3 linked regions of the Homo sapiens genome follow. The protein of the gene in region 3 purifies or fractionates together with the protein of the main gene of each other region. This does not show direct contact. Each region holds a gene or a part of one and is shown on either strand. Other genes may lie near its edges. The genes, in order: DOHH, UBE3C and FN3KRP.

The links.
Region 1: the proteins of FN3KRP (region 3) and DOHH purify together in Homo sapiens (affinity purification with mass spectrometry; 2 studies listed by BioGRID and IntAct, with this or other methods). This does not show direct contact.
Region 2: the proteins of FN3KRP (region 3) and UBE3C purify together in Homo sapiens (affinity purification with mass spectrometry; one large-scale study listed by BioGRID and IntAct). This does not show direct contact.

What each region holds. Positions count from the first base shown.
Region 1 is NC_000019.10:3,490,663-3,494,308, forward strand, and holds the end of DOHH (deoxyhypusine hydroxylase), read right to left. Parts: intron 3,443-3,646; coding exon 3,366-3,442; intron 3,250-3,365; coding exon of another isoform or gene 3,109-3,249; exon of another isoform or gene 1,853-3,108; intron 1,838-1,852; coding exon 1,600-1,837; intron 1,150-1,599; coding exon 830-1,149; 3' UTR 162-829; downstream 1-161. UniProt on the Homo sapiens protein: Catalyzes the hydroxylation of the N(6)-(4-aminobutyl)-L-lysine intermediate produced by deoxyhypusine synthase/DHPS on a critical lysine of the eukaryotic translation initiation factor 5A/eIF-5A.
Region 2 is NC_000007.14:157,204,893-157,208,538, forward strand, and holds part of UBE3C (ubiquitin-protein ligase E3C), read left to right. Parts: intron 1-2,505; coding exon 2,506-2,663; intron 2,664-2,810; coding exon 2,811-3,043; intron 3,044-3,646. UniProt on the Homo sapiens protein: E3 ubiquitin-protein ligase that specifically catalyzes 'Lys-29'- and 'Lys-48'-linked polyubiquitin chains.
Region 3 is NC_000017.11:82,715,072-82,718,817, reverse strand, and holds the start of FN3KRP (ketosamine-3-kinase), read right to left. Parts: upstream 2,113-3,746; 5' UTR 2,063-2,112; coding exon 1,922-2,062; intron 375-1,921; exon of another isoform or gene 247-374; intron 1-246.

The sequences.
Region 1 (3,646 bases), on a different chromosome or scaffold from region 3:
GCTCAGTGTCAGCAGCAGGACAGATCCTAGAGCCAATGGCTGCGGATACAACCGTCTCCCCGCCCAGACGCCACACACTCTCGGGGAACGTTCCCTGAAAGCCCCCACCCCTCCCTCCCTCCCACGCTCCCCTCACCCAACACACTCAGAGGAGTCAGTGCTTGGCAAAAATAATTTAATATTCCATCTGGGCAGCGCTCTGAGGTCTGCTTGTCCCTCCCTGGCCCCTGTGCCCTACCTGACCCACTCAGGGACCACCACCCTGTCCCTACCCAGGCCTCGGGGTGGGGGAGTCAGAGGCCCCCAGACCCTGTGTCCCATTCCTAGTGAAGCTGAAGCCACCATAACGTCAGCCTCTTCCCAGAGCCCCAGCTCTGCCCCTGGCTTCCCTCGCGATCCTCCCCTGGCTCCCCTCGCGATCCTCCCTTGGCTTCCCTCGCGATCCTCCCCTGGCTTCCCTCGCGATCCTCCCCTGGCTTCCCTCGCGATCCTCCCCTGGCTTCCCTCGCGATCCTCCCCTGGCTTCCCTCGCAATCCTCCCCTGTCCTGAGCCGGGCATCCCAGAGCCTCCCGCAGAGTCCCACCCCAAGCCTGGAAACTTCCACGCTACAGCCCTGCGCCAGGCCCCGAGGAGCAGTCAGGGGACTCAGGGAGTCACAGCACAACGGCAGCTCCTCGGTCCCAGACGGAGGAGGGGGACAGCAACCATGCGCCCAGCAAGACACAAGCGATGACACCGATTTACACACACCCGGTTTAGACGCCAAAGCTCTGCGGGGGAGGAGCGGCCCTCAAGAGTCCTCCGGGAGCTCCGGGTGAGGGTGGGGCCCTAGGAGGGGGCCCCGCGCAGCTGCTCCAGGCCGTCCGCGTACTGGAAGGCCCGCCCGGTCTCGTGCTCATACATGTCCAGAGCCACCTCGCAGCTCTCACGCACCACGCGCTCTGGGTCGTCCGCGTGAGCCTGCAGCGCGGCCAGGCAGGCGGGCCGGGCAATGGCGCCCAGGGCCTCCGCGCACTCGTGCCGCACCATGGGGTTCTCGGTGCATCGGGCCAGGGCGGCCGCCAGCTGGGGCACCGCCGCCTCGTGCTGCAGCTGTCCCAGGACGTAGCCGACCTCGTGGCGGAAGAGGGCGCTCCCACAGTGCAGACCTGCAGGGGAGAGGGACACTCGCTGGGGCCAGGAGGGGTGGGAAGGGGAGCTCTGTCTTTTCGAAGACATGGGGTCTTGCTATCTTGCCCAGGCAGGTCACAAAGTCCTGGCGATCTTCCCATCCCGGCCTCCCAAAGTGCTGGGACGACAGGCGTGAGCCACCACGCCCAACCTGGGGTGTTCTACCTTGAAGACACCCCTGCCCCCAGCCCCAGTGATTAGGGATGCCCGGGGGAACTGACCGCAGCTATGGGGGCGGGAAAAGCTGGGAGCTATGGGGACCAAGAGGGACGCTTGCACGGGTTCTTAAGAGGCCCCATGGGAAATGCTTGGGGCCAGGCCCGGGATGCCGTTCCCGGGGGCAGGCCGCGGCCCCACTGCACAGATGCCATCACTGAACCTCACAGCGAGGCACTGCCCAGGACCCCACCCCAGAAGCCCCTCCTCACCCTCGGCCAGCGCCAGGGCGGCCTCCTCGCCTCCCGCGTTGCGCAGGGCGAACATGGCGCGGTATCGCTCGAAGAGCGGCCGGGACTCATCCAGCAGCGCCTCCCGCAGGCGCCCCACGTCACGCTCCTCAGCCGGCGGGGCAGGGTCCACGGAGAGGTAGGGTCCCGCCGCCGGCTCCCCGCCGTGCTGCTGCAGCCACTCCAGCCTGCGCACGGCCAGCTGGCAGGTCTCGGCCACCTGCGGGGAGGGGGTATCAGGCAGCGGGTTGGCCCTGGGGGGTCGCAGGGGCCCTTCCCCACCCCCCGGGATGGCAGCTTAGCAGGGGAGAGAGACACTGGCAGGGTGACTAACCCATCATTCCAGGCAGGAAGTAAGCCAGCAGGGGTGGCTGACTTGTGAGTGACCGGGGGACTGGAGGGCTGGGGAGGGCCTCAGGGAGGAGGTGATGTGGAGGCAGAGACCTAAGCCAGCTTAGGGAGGGAATCAGGTGGAGACCCGGGGATGGGGAAGCAGCGGTGGAAAGGCCCTGAGGCAGGACCCTGCGGGAGGGGTGAGGGCCAAAGGAACATGTGCGGCCCCACCTGACCAGGTAAGGCCTGCGGGCCACTGTAAGGGCTTGGGATTTTGTCCTAAAGGTGATGAGATATCGTGAGAGCTTTAAGCATGGAACAGAACAGCAGAATTGAGTGTCACACGTACCCCCGGCTGCCCCGGAGGAGGAGAGACTGAGGGTCGGGGTGGGATGTGGACAAGAAGTGGCAGGGGAGAAAGGAACATGCATGTCCGTGGCGGCATAACTCATAACAGCTAAAAAGCAGAGACAATTCAAGCATCCAGCCACAGTGAGTGGACACAGCATGGGCCGTCCACACCACGGAACGTGACTCAGCCACAAAAAGGAATGACGGGCCGGCCGAAGCGGCTCATGCCCCTAATCCCAGCAGTTAGGGAGACCAAGGCAGGAGGATCGCTTGAGCCCAGGAGTTCAACACCAGCCTGGGCGACAGAGCGGGACTTCATCTCTATAAAGAAAAAACTAATAAAATAAAAATTTGTTTCATTTTTGGGCCAGGCGCGGTGGCTCACGCCTGTAATCCCAGCACTTTGGAGGCCAAGGCGGGTGGATCACGAGGTCAGGAGATCGAGACCATCCTGGCTAACATGGTGAAACCCCGTCTCTACTAAAAATACGAAAAGATTTGCTGAGCGTGGTGGCAGGCGCCTGTAGTCCCAGCTACTCTGGAGGCTGAGGCAGGAGAATAGCATGAACCTGGGAAGCAGAGCTTGCAGTGAGCCGAGATCGCGCCCACTGCACTCCAGCCTGGGCGACAGAGCGAGACACCGTCTCAAAAAAAAAAAAGAAGAAATGTTGGAAGGTAGCAGGAGATCTCTGAAGAGGTCTGGTGGGCCAGGACAAGGTATCAGAGGTAGAGGGCACTGGGTGGGTTCAGAGGGGTCTTGGCAGAGGGACTGGACGTGGGGGTTCAGAGAAAGGGGGTCAGGCCGGCTCAGGGGCTCAAGGCCCGGGATGGAAGCGGGTGAGCAAAGCTGGTTGTCGCCGTTTTGCCAAATGGGGCGCAGCAAGTGTCTGTCCAGATTGTCGCCCTCGCCTTCCTCATCCCTGGGGCATCCTTGGCCAAGTGGTCGCCCTGGCAACCAGAGATGGGGAGGGTCTGAGGCTGCTCCAGGTCAGGGCTGGGGCAGGGCTGGGCAGGGCTTCCCAGGGACCCGAGACTGGCAGGGAGACAAGCAGGGGCCTGGTTACCTCGATGACGGGGTCCGAGGAATACTGCTTCAGGATCTCCAGAACTTCCGGGTCCCCGATGGCCCCCAGGGCCTCCCCTGGGAAGAAGCAGCCGGAGAGCTCATGTTGGTGGGGTGGATGTGTGGAAAATGCCCGGCTACCTCTGGGACCGGAGGACACCCCTCCCAGGGCTCTGCCACTGTGGGGAAGCCCCGCCTCTGTCCACGGCTGATTGGAGCAGCAGTCGGTACAGGCTCCCCGCTGGACCAATCAGCATCCCCTCCCCAGAGCAAGGCACTGCC
Region 2 (3,646 bases), on a different chromosome or scaffold from region 3:
GCAAGGGTGGGGGACATTGGACGAGGAGGAGGAGTGGTTCCCACAGGCACGCAATTTGAAAACCCTTGTTCTCAAGATCTAGACAGAGGTTAGGGATTGCCTCGGGTCTCACTGATGGTCAGTAATTCACCTAGCTCCCCTGAGTTATGTGTGAATCAGTGTCTTTTCCATTACAGTAAGTTGCAGACTTTATTTGCACATAAGTCTTTGAGACTGACCTGTTTTCAGAGGAATATTTGAGTCAGTGTTTATAGCAGAAAGAATGGTCAGCAGAGAACTAAGAGACCTGTGTCTCGTTTGTGCCCTGTCTGCAGGGCAGCATTGGCACATATCCTTGCCAATCCCAGTTTTTGTCATTAAAGTAAAAATGATGCATTCCTTTTGCTTGTTTCACAGGGGGTTTGAAGAGGACAAATAAGTTTTTGTTGGTTAATTACCCTGTCCCTTTTTTTTTTGGACCCAATATAAGAATTTTATGCATCCTGCAATATGTGTGCATAACTGATGATGTGTTGGTGGTGATGATTCTTGTCAGGGATAACAGTACAAGTACAAGGATTCTTGTCGGGGATAACAGTGGAAAGCAGGCTCATCAAGACGCAGGAGTGGGCTCCAGCTGTCATAGGCAGGGCTGTTGAAAGAAGCCACCCCTGTCCAGTTAAGGCAGCCCTGTGCCTTTTTTATCCTCCATATAAACAACCTTTTTGTGTCATCCTGGCTTTGGCAATGAGGTAGGACAATTGTGCTTTGTCCCTTTTTGAATGTCCCACAATGTTTAAATTTTGGAAGAATGGCATTCATTCATTGATGAATCTGTTCAGCATAGTGCTAAATGCAGAGTATCACAACTGCAAACATGGATCATGTATGCTCAGGTTGTGTAGCATGTGGACATAGTGTATCTTCTCTGTGGGAACACAGTTTCAGGTGCACATATGGGTTCCTTTTCTCAAAGCGGTTGATGATGGCAGTGCCCTCCCCTGAACCATGCACCATGGAGACTCAGAAGCTCCAGGTGGCTCAGCCAAGCTCCTTACGGCCCCGCTAATTAGAACAAGTGGCCTTACCTTCTGCTTTGCTTTCATACATGATTTGTAGATCCTGACTCCTGGTTACATCTCATCTAATATATACCTGTAGTTTTGTGGAAATGGATATTTGGGGAGATAAGAGAGTGATCTTGCTCACAGTGTCTGTTAACCTGTGATTGATTTGACTTGGTAGAGGGGACCATGGACTTTATAGAAAGAGCTTGCAGGTGAGCCTATTAGCTAAAAGTTCCATAAGACAAGGAACCAGACTTAAAAACGAGAGAAAAGGAAGAAGTTCTAGGTGAAATAAGTCAATTTAATATATCGTAGCTCTTTTTTATTTATTTATTTTTTTTGGAAACGGAGTCTCGCCCTGTTGCCCAGGCTGGAGTGCAATGGCACGATCTCGGCTCACTGCAACCTCCGCTGCTCGGGTTCAAGTGATTCCCCTGCCTCAGCCTCCCAAGTAGCTGGGATTACAGGCACGTGCCACCACACCCAGCTAATTTTTTGTATCTTTAGTAGAGATGGGGTTTCACCATGTTGGCCAGGCTGGTCTCGAACTCTTGACCTTGTGATCCACCCACCTCGGCCTCCCAGAGTGCTGGGATTACAGGCGTGAGCCACCATACCCAGCCTTTTTTCTTTTCTTTTTTTTTTTCCTTAATATTTTAAACTTCTTTGAAACAGAGTCTGGCTCTGTTCCCCAGGCTGGAGTGCAGTGGCGCAATCTCAGCTCATGGCAACCTCTGCCTCCTGGGCTCAAGCCATTCTCCTGCCTCAGCCTCCTATGTAACTAGGAAGGACTACAGGCACCTATCACCACACCTGGCTAATTAATTTAATATATCATAGCTCTTGATGGGTGAAAGGCTGCTGAGTAAAGACCACCTTAGCTGCTGTGAAAGCAGGAGCAGGATGGGAGCTGGTGAATAAAGTGGACAGTGGGAGCAAGGCCACCATAGAGAACTGGAAACTTTGTTTCTTGAGGTTCCAGTTTGGCTTCAATATTGAATAGCTTTCAACGTTACCAAAAGTTAAGTCGCTGGATAAATTTTTCCTGAGACCAGAATGATTTGCCTTTATTAAATATGTTGAGTAGAAGGGAAGGGGGATGGTTTCCTCATAAGAGTAAAGTACATGTGTGTCTTGAATAGTGGCCTTATTAGAGCTCTTCTTAGGGCCTTAGTCTGGGAACGACTGGCTTACTCTTAGTAACTTCATTATCTAGTTGGTACAGGTAGCAGAAACCTTAGTGAAGATTAATGGGTTGGTATGCTATTTTTTGTATTAATCTATGCTGTTTATTAACCTGCATTGCCATGGTGACTTTACCTTGCCTTTAAATAGTTTAATTCCTAATGCAAATGTTACTTTCCCTGATTATATTTGTTTGATGTTATGTTTTAATTAGTTCCCAAACTAAGACTAATTTTAAAGTGACTGGTTTTTTTCTTCTTTTCTTTAATTCAAGGTCTATGGTACCGTTGCTTCAGGTGATATCCAGGGGTTCTCCTATGTCTTTTGAAGATTCTAGTCGAATCATCCCACTCTTTTATCTTTTTAGCTCCTTGTTTAGTCATTCACTAATTTCCATACATGATAACGAATTCTTCGGTGATCCCATAGAAGGTAAGGATTTTGAGAAACCAGTTTGCTGCTGGCCACTTGGCCCATCAGTTTTCATAGACAGTAGAAAAGTTTTAAGCTTTTTAAGTCTTTCAGTGTGTGTTAAAAGATGGAAAAAGAAACAATAGAAAACTGGATTGTGTTTTTTAGTTGTAGGTCAAAGACAATCATCAATGATGCCTTTTACTTTAGAAGAGCTGATAATGTTGTCTCGATGCCTTCGAGATGCATGCCTGGGGATCATCAAGTTGGCTTATCCAGAAACCAAGCCAGAAGTTCGAGAAGAATATATTACAGCATTTCAGAGTATTGGAGTTACTACTAGCTCTGAAATGCAACAATGCATACAGATGGAACAGAAAAGATGGATTCAGTTATTTAAGGTATAGAGTATATGTATTTTTTTGTTTACTGACATTGAAAAATGTACAAACTTTTGTCTTGACTCGTTGCAGAGGAATAAAAATGCAGGTTTGTTTCAGACATGTTTTAATTTGCAAGACTTTTTTTTTTTTTTTTTTTTTTTTTTTTTTTTTTTTTGATACATGGACTTGATGTGTCTCCCAGGCTGGAGTGCAATGACACCATCATACTCCACTGCAGCCTTGAACTCCTGGGATCAAGCAATCCTCTCACCTCAGCCTCCTGAGTAGCTGGGGCTACTGGCACATGCCACCACACCCAGCTAATTTATTAGTTTTTTTGTAGAGACAGAGTCTCACTGTGTTACCCAGGCTGGTCTCAAATTCCTGGCCTCATGGATTCCTCCTGCTTCTGCCTCCCATAGTGCTGGGATTATAGGCGTGAGCCACTGCAGCTGGCCTATATACCTTTTTAATTAAGAAAAGTAATTTTAGTACTTTTGATTAATTAAGGTAATTTAATTAACTAAAATTACTTTCATTTTAATTTACATTTGCCTCACTTAAAACCATGTTTTTAAACCTTGTTACATGCATCTTTTCTATGTGGCCCTAACTACTTAA
Region 3 (3,746 bases):
CAACTTCAAACCAAGACTATCCTGACTGAGGATTCCATACACATGGACAGTGTTTTCAAACACACTTGCCAACAGGGTAGGCTACAGGTTCAGAGGCTGTACTGGAAGAAGAGGGCTTGAGCTTTCCAGTGTTGGACTACACTTGTGTGCTGTGGTTGAATTGGGAGGTTCTCTGGAGAGAGGAAAATCGAAGGCACTAATATTCCACTAAGATCCGGCAACAGTGGGACTGTGAACATGGGTTACCTGTCAGTGTCCTCAGACGACACCTCAACTGCAGTCCTGTTCCACCTACAGGACACAGACTCACCCGACCTCTCAGGTGCAGGCGGCACCCTGGCTGCCTATGCCAGTGACCTGGGGTCACTTTTCACCTGAAGAGACCACCAAGTTCCATGCCACCTCCTGCCCAGCACTGGAAACCACCTCATCTTGAGATGCCGTTTCCATCCAACTCCCCGGGACCACAGCAACTCCTCCCTTGGGTCCCCCTGGCTCACCACACAGCAGTGATCCCTAGAGTAGAAGTCAGAGCCAGCGGCCTTTCCTTTCCTCCTGCTACACACACCACTGCCCTGCCTGCTCTCCCATCCTCATCTGGGGCTCCACCCTTACACACACAGACACATAACACACACACACAACATATACAGACACACAACACACACACAACACATACAGACACACAACACACACAACATACGACTTACAGACACACCATACACACACAACACACAGACACACACACACAACATACACAGCAGTGATCCCCGCAGAACAGGTCAGGGCCAGCGGCCTTTCTTTTTCTCCTGAGACACACACCACTGCCCTGCCCACTCTCCCATCCTCACCTGGGGCTCCACCCTTACACACACACAGACACACAATACATACACACAACATACAAACATTACAAACATACACACATACAACGTACACACACACAACATACACATAGACACACACACTCTCCTCGTGCTCCTGACTTCCAGCTGTCTTCATCCTTCTTTCAGTTCTTCAGAGTCCCCACCTCCTCAGCCTCAGAGCCCCACCACAGCTGCCATGTCACCGCTGCTAGGAACACTCTTTTTTTTTTGAGACGGAGTCTCATTCAGTCACCCAGCAGGCTGGAGTGCAGTGGCGCGATCTCGACTCACTGCAACCTCTGCCTCCTGGGTTCAAGCGATTCTTCTGCCTCAGCCTCCCGAGTAGCTGGGATTACAGGCGCCCGCCACCACGCCCAGCTAATTTTTGTATTTTTAATAGAGACGGGGGTTTCACCTTGTTGGCCAGGCTGGTCTCGAACTCCTGACTTCGCGCTCCACCCACCTCTGTCTCCCAAAGTGCTGGGATTACAGGCGTGAGCCACCGCGCCCGGCCCGAGAATGAGTCTAACAGAAGGACAGAGCATGCCAGGGTGTGGTGAGGCGCAGCAGCTGGCCTGGGGGCAGCACCTTCGCCCCGTTTCACAACGTACTGACCGAGGCTCACGGGGGATGGACACCTCCAGAGTCACTTAAGCTGAGGACTTAAGCAGCTTCCCCGGCTAGAACGACCCCACTTAACCAGCACCGCAGGGCAGGAACCCCGGGAGCAAGACTGCAGCAGCCAGTCCCGCCCCATTTCACGTAGCGCCCCCGAGAGAAAGTTCACGGAGAACAGGAGGTGTGGGGCGGCCGCGGTTCCTGCTCCGGACAGTTCCCCGCAGGTGCAAACTCCTCCGGACGCCCCGGACGCTTCCGCCGCCCCCGTTCACCGCTCGCCCCGCGCAAAGGGTTCCCCGCAAGGGGCGGCGGCGGCAGTCCCGGGAGAGCCACCCACGGCCTCCGGCGGGAGAAGCCCAGGCCGCGCCCCGCGCCGAGGCCCGCGACCCTCTCCGGAAAGAAACCGGTCCCCCGGCCCGCCCGACCCGCTGCCTGACCTCCGCCTTGGGGTTCACTTTCACGAACACTCGTCCTTGATCCGTGTCGTAGCTCCGGCCCTGGCTGATGCACCCGCCCCCCGAGTGGCCCGTGGCCCTGACAGAGCTGCAGCCCAGCTCGCGCCTCAGGAGCTCCTCCATGTTCCCGCCGCGGCCGCGGACCCGCCCCGGATCTGGCGGAGACTCGAGAGACGGCGGCCGAGCGGGCAAACATGAGTCCGCGCGAGGATTGGGCGGGGGGCGGGTGGGGGCGGGGCCCGGCCGCAGAGACAAGCGCTAGGATTGGGTGGCGGGAAGGGGCGGGCGTGGCCGCAGAGATGAGCGCTGGGATTGAGGGGCGGGAAGGGGAGGGGCCGGGAGGCAGGTAGGCGCGGGGGATTGGGTGGGGGTGAGATGACGTCAGGGGGCGGGGCCTGACCGACCCCGACCCAGACGGTTTGGGTTCAACTCTCCTGCACAAAATAAGTGGAAATGCTGATGGAAATAGTTAGAATATATTTTCTAAAGAGCTGACCCACTAGCAAGGGGCATCAGCCCAAGGTCTGGGTGCCGGGAGCCCAGAATGTTAAGATTGCTTTCGCCCGGGCGTTTGCTGAACCCGAGGAACAGAGCTCCTGATGTGGGGAGTGGCGGGCGCGCTCGGGGTGCACGTGCAACGGAGACACCGCCCCTAAACCTGGGGCCCTGAGGCTAACAGCTAACAGTGGCCCTGCCGTTACGGCCAGTGTCAGGTGCCAGCTGGGCTGGACCAGGAATTCCCAGAAACCTGGCAAGGCATGATTTGGGGTGGGTCGTGCTGAGGGCCACACCATCCGCTTCCCCGCTTCTGAGGCCTTCCGACCTGGGCTGAGCCCGGCTACCCGAGTCCCGGGGTCTCCGGCTCACAGACTTCTCGGCCTCCGTAATTGCAAACGCCAGCTCCCCCAGTCCATCTCCTGTCCTGGATCTACGTCTATATCCTACTGGATCCGTCTCTCTGGAGAACCCTAATACAGCTGTCAACACAAGGATGAACTAACTACAAGAAGGCCTGAATAGGAACTCTCCCAGGGGACGAAGAGGTTTCAGCCTTCAGCAAAGGATGGTTCATAGAAACCGTTCGCATAGTCGGCCCTCCACGGACTGCAACCCTAGTTAATATTACCTACAGTAAACAAAAAATTCAAGTATAGATTTTAGTCTAAAGCAAATAGGAAATGTCGCTTCCCTGGACGTTGGGAGAAGCAAACACGAATCCTCTCCTGAGGCCGGAAGCGGTGGCTCACGCCTGTAATCCCAGCACTTTGGGAGGCTGAGGCGGGCGGATCATTTTATAACTATCTATTAAATGGTACATATGTGTGTGTTCACGCACTTTTCTGTGTGTATACCGCATTTCATAATTTTAAAAAGCAAAAAAGATTAGCGGGGCGTGGTGGCGGGCGCTTGTAATCCCAGATACTCGGGAGGCTGAGGCAGGAGAATCGCTTGAACCCGGGAGGCGGAGGTTGCAGTGAGCTGAGATCCCGCCATTGCACTCCAGCCTGGGTGACAAGAGCAAAACTCCGTCTCAAAAAAAAAAAAGGCAAAAAAGAACAGATGAAAATCCGCAGATGGTAATAGATAAATCAAGGAACACATTAGAGAAGAGTGAGAGAATTAAAAGGTGCTCCAAAGGCGGTGGAGTGGGTGAACCACTCCCTGTATGCTCCTCCCCTCGGGCCAGGGCCTGCGGATGTCCCTGTTTTAATCTGTGGCCTTGACCGTTTGGACATTTTAACTCCATGCCATGAACATGAAGATTTTCATCAGAACTATGCCACCGTTAAGTTTTTGTTGAGAAACT